Linked DNA regions of Homo sapiens: region 2 is linked to region 1. A link means that fine-mapping ties the variant in region 1 to the expression of a gene that starts in the linked region. Tissue or cell type: whole blood. Region 1 holds a variant in brackets; the other region holds the start of a gene. All regions are shown on one strand. Distances are between the middles of the regions.

Region 1 (2,687 bases):
GGTAGATTAGACCATTGTTTAAAATATTCTCTCCCTCCCCATCGCCTCCATGTTGGAAAGTGCATCCCCACACCCGACTTTGGGCTTAGCCATTTAACTTGCTTTGGCCAGTGAGATGTCAGCAGACAGAACATAATCAAAGGTTTGGAAAGTGTTTGGGCTGGCCTTGCCCTCTTTATGACACTGCCATAAGAAGAATGTATTCAGGCTAACTTGCTGGCCCCAAGAGGAGCGAGATACGCATGAAGCAGAACTGCTCCGGCCATGCCCTGTTCTAGTTCAGCTGATCCCTCATGACTGAGTGGGCCCAGCCAAGAGCAGCAGTGCGATCAGCCAAACGCAGCCAAGATCAGCCAACACATAGACATCAGGGCTGAGCAACAGCTGATTAAACATCCCTGAAATTCTGGGGCTGTTTGTGATGAAGCACTGCTGCAGCAAAAGCTAACAAAGAGAGGCCATAGGAAAGACAGGCCATAGGAAAATCCCTTGCAGGGGCCTGACATTCCTGGACTCTGGGTAATGACTTTTCCTTAAATGAGAACAACTGGCATTGGAGATCTGTGAACACTGTTCCCAGGTTGCACACCAAGACCCCAGTATGCCGCCTTTGAGAGACACACACACGTATGGTCAGCTAAGCTTTGCTCCTGCTTAAAGCTCCTTTAGAAATCATGCCTGCTGGCTTTCAGAATCCCTTAGGAGGAGGGTAGAAACTTGTCCCCTCAGTGGTAAGATAATTGTATCTGGGTATCATCATTGAAAAATGTTTTGTGTACTGAGGCAAAAAAAACCAATAGGGTTTTAAATGCCCTCTCCCATATACACACACTGACAGAGAGGCCTGGCTAGGGGTAAGCATTTACTCCCTCTTCTTGCGATATTGTGAAGGGTATCATGCCTGCTCTGGGACCCAGGATTATTCAGACAGTTGAAGAAGCTCATCCTTTGTGACACAGGAGCAGCACAGGTAACAGCTGACACCTGCAGGGCACTGCACCGGGAGGGAGTAGCTGCTCCTTTATTCCCTTGTGGCTAGGTCCTGATGCAATTCCTGCCTCCCTGCAATGAAAAGAATCCAAGTGCATCTTGCCTAGAAAGAGAAGGTGTCTTTAGCTAGGTTCCCTAAGAAGTAGAGTCAGGGGCAAGGATTTGAATCAAAACAGTTTGAGAAATTATCCCATGAAACACGTGTAGGGGAATGGGAAAGTGAGAACAGAGAAGGGACCAAAGCCAACACATACAGGGTACATTAATGAGCAGTTAATGCCATGTGTAGCCTTCCTCCCATGATCATATGCTGGATATAGTATGGAAGCTGGGATACATGTCTATCAACTCCTGTTGGGCATTACTTAGTTGAAGGTCATTCCTGGAGGCATGAGATCTCTTCTGGCCTACTCTTATCCAAAGGTTGGGCCCACACATATGAATATATCATATACTCCCCACCTCCAAACTTCAGGAAATGAAAATTACCGTGACCAAGTATCATACATTCTAGCTTTTTTTTTCTAGTACACTGTATTCTAAGTTCATTAACAACAACAGAAACAAAACAAAACAAAAAACCTGCCCATAATCATCTTAATTAACTTTCCGACCTACTCA[C/T]CAGGTTGGCAACTTACTGTTTAAAAAATACTGGTCTACTCCAGATGTTCTCAAGCCTGGCTGATTACTGGAATCCTCAGGAGTAGTTGCTAAATAAAAATCCATATTCCCAGGCACCAGTCCTGGAGGTTCTGATTCAGTAGGTCTGGAGTATGGCTCAGGCATCTGCATTATTTGTTTCTTTTATTTCCTGCCTTCTTGTGAATTACTTGAATTCCACTTTGATTTATCAGTAGTGTTTTTGAGTATATCCCTTGATATAGATTTTCTAGTGGTTGCTCTAGGCATCATACTATAATCTGTAACTTATCACAGTCTACTGGTATTGACATTTTACGTTTCGAATAAGTGTAGAAACTTTACCTCCACCTAGGTTCCTTTATAATTGTCTTATGTGTTTCCTCTACATATAATGAGACCCACATCAGACAGTAATTTTGGCTTCAACTGTCAAGTATGATTTCCTCAAGAGGGAAAGGATCATCTATTATATTCACCCATATTTTTACTCTTTATGTTCGTCCCTCATTCCTGATGTTCCAGGTTTCCTTCCATTCCTATATCCCTTCTTTGAAGAACTTCTGTTAGTTCACTATTCTTTTAAGGTCAACTTCCTGGCAACAAATTCTCTTAGTTTTCCTTCATGTCGAAATGTCTGATTTTAGCTTCATTCCTAAAGGATATTTTCACTGCGTATAGAATTTGGGGTACAGATTTTCCTTCTTTCAGTATGTGAAAAATGATGCTGTGACACCTCCTCTGGCCTCTGTGACTGCTGATGAGGAACTGCTACCCTTCGAATTGTTTTTCCCTGGAGGGAATGCATTGTCTCCTGCTGCTCTTAAGATTTTGTTGAGTTTTCAAAAGTTTGACTCTGAGGTGCCTTGGTGTGGGTTTCTTTGGGTTTATCCTCTTTGGGGTTTGCTCAGATTCTTGAATCTGTAGGCTCATGCCTTCCCCCAAATGTGGGAAATAGCCATTATTTCCTTGAAAACTTTTTCAGCCCCACACTGCTCTCCTAGGACTCCAATTACACCAATGCTAGATTAAAAAAAAAAAATTGTATTGGCCAGGGG
Region 2 (2,687 bases), 180 kb before region 1:
CAAGCTCTGAATAATAGTCTTTGTTCTCATTTGAATAATCTTTATTTTCACACTTCTTAAAAAATTTAATTTCCTGGCATGTTGCATAATGTTAGGTAAGCCATTTTCTCTCTTTGGGCCTTACTTTCTTCAACTGAAAAACTGGTTCAACATTTATTCATTCTTTTATTCCGTAAGCCAAAAATAAAATTCAAAGCCCTCTGACCATATGAATGGATCTCTCCTCTTGGCTAAGGGCATTCCAAAGTTAACGTGAAAAACTGGTTCAGGCCATAATGGGAAGGAGGAGTTGGACATGGCTCATTATGCTCCCCTACCTTTTGAAATTCAGGACCAGCTGACCAGCATTAACATCAACACAGACCTTAAGACTGATAGAACAGCCTCTTTAAGTCTCACAGACTATCCGGTAGTGTGATAATGATGAGAAACATTTGCAGTCTATTCTCTGAAGCCTGCTACAGGCTCCATCTGCATGATAAAACTTTGGTCTCCACAAGCCCTTATCTTAACTGAGACATCCCTTTCTATTGATTCTAAGTCTTTATACAATAACTTAACTCTTTCAACCAATTGCCACTCAGAAAATCTTTGAATCCACCTATGTCCTGAAAGCCTCCTCTTCCAGTTGTCCCACCTTTCCATACCGAACCAACGTACATCTTACATGTATTAATTGATGTCTTATGTCTTCCTAAAATGTGTAAAACCAAGTTGTAGCCCGACCACGTTGGGCACATGTTCTCAGGATCTCCTGGGGCTGTGGCACGGGCCATGGTCACTCATATTTGGCTCAGGATAAATCCCTTCAAATATTTTACAGTTTGACTTTTCGTGGACAATTCTACAAATATTCCTTGGCAGTTAAAGAAATAACTCCCCAGGAGGTGCTAGACATCGGGCGCATGTTAGAGGCACAAAGATGAGAATGTTAAAAGACATAAAATACAGGTCTGCTCTGGGAATGCAAAAACTGGTAAAAGGAGAGATAAAAGAGCAGGTGCAGTCTAGTGAAGTACCCGCTACCTCCTATCAGCAAATATCTGTCCACCTAGGGTGCAGCGAGCTGGAGAGGAAGGGGTGGCCTAGAGCGCAGGGGAAGGATTCCTCCCCAGCCGCCTGCACCCCTACCCCGGTAGCGGTCCCTGGGATCGTCCGTGTCTCCAGGAGAACCGGACCGCTCTCCCCTCCCTCCCCGAGCGAGAAAGGAGGACCACAGAGATGCGGCGCCCTCCGCCGTCCTAGAGCAACCGGAGCGGCCCGAGCCCCGGCCTCCCGGATGCTGGGGCCTGGCGGGTGTGGAGCACGGGGAGTCGGGCGTGGGGCGGGCAGGGAGTGGAGTCGGGGTCTTACTCCGGTGGCTGCAGGGCGCAGGGTAGCCGTGTCAGGCCTGCCCAGGTGCAGAGCGCTCTTCCGCGACCCCAACAGCCTCTGGTCCGGTCTGGCGCGCCCTCGCTTTCCCAGAGGGCGACCTGGGCTATGGCGGCCGTGGCGCTGGCGAGCGGGACACGCCTCGGCCTTGTCCTCGAGCTGCTCCCGGGACAGCCCGCGCTGCCCCGGGCGCGCCGGGTGAGTGCGGGGCCGGAGCCTGGAAGCAGTCTTGGCCCTGCCCTGGGTTCTAGGCCCGGAGACGGGGTGGTGCGGCGGCTGGGAAATGGGGGTACAACCCAGAGTGAGGGGCCTCGAGGGACAGGCAGCACAGCGGAGTCGACACCCCTGGACCTGAGCCTCAAGGAGAGCAGACGTGCAGCGGCACGGGGTTGAGCCGACTGCTGGGGCAGAGCGCACAGAGTGCTGTCGGGGGCGATGAATGGCCAGAATTTCAGAGCTGCCTTTACAGAGCTGGTTATGTTTGAGCTGGGTATTAGGTTGAAAAGGAATTTGCAATGCAGGAGCAGGAAGGAAGAACTGGATATTCAGGCAAGAGTAGCCGCAGGTGCAAGGACACAGAACAGGGTGAGGAAAGAGTTTGGTTTCCCAATGCAATGGTGAGAGGATCGGAGATGAGAGTGGTGGTGGCTGATGATCCTGGCCAGGAAAGCTGGGTCTGTGAGTAGTGAATGGAATTGTCTGTAGTGCAGAGGAATGTGGACTCTATTAGGCAGACAAAGTTGAGCCAGCCAAAGCCTTGGAGCCCTGGAGTGCTGGATAAATAGCTGTGGAGACTTTCTAGTGCGCAAGGACTGAAGTGCAGTGGACCAGAATGGGCTCCTCCACAGTGTGGAGACTGAGACCCTGAAGGAGGCAGTGGCTGAGAATTACGGGAAGTCCCAACGGCTGGAGGTCAGCAGTATTTGTTTCTTAAGAGGATGAGAGAAAGAAGGTGCAGGAGCTGAGACTCCTAGAGATATAGAAAATGGGGACATGGAGATTGGGACGTGGGTAAGCAAGTGAGGTGGGATCTTTGTGAGAGTGTTGCGGGTGGTGGGGGTGCAGGGAGTAAAGTCACAACGAGGATCTGCCCTGTTGAGTACAGTGTTCAGAGCAACCTGAATGTTCTGAGGAGCCCTAGCTGCCTCTGTGGCTGGTGGCAGTGACTGGGGAGGACAAAGGAGGAAGAGTCCTATACAGGGGCAGCAGGGATGGCAGGAATGGGGACGGAAGGCAGTGTGGCATAACAGGCAAGAGCCAGAGTCAAACAGGCCTGGGTTCTGTCTCAGTTCTGGAACTTTGGGGGAAGTTAATCC

The links. PIP is the estimated chance that this variant, and not a neighbour inherited with it, causes the effect.
Region 2: ZNF662 starts here. The variant in region 1 is fine-mapped to the expression of ZNF662 in whole blood (TOPMed, PIP above 0.99).

The regions. Positions count from the first base shown.
Region 1 is chr3:43,081,686-43,084,372 of GRCh38, forward strand. The region is part of intron 1 of POMGNT2 (protein O-linked mannose N-acetylglucosaminyltransferase 2 (beta 1,4-)); the gene reads right to left. Among named protein-coding and RNA genes, the nearest start is that of POMGNT2-AS1, 3.0 kb to the right of the region's middle. The variant C/T (reference allele first, on the strand shown) is at 1,612.
Region 2 is chr3:42,904,873-42,907,559 of GRCh38, forward strand. It overlaps ZNF662 (zinc finger protein 662), which reads left to right and starts at 1,270. Exons shown (of 5, transcript NM_207404.4): 1 at 1,270-1,296.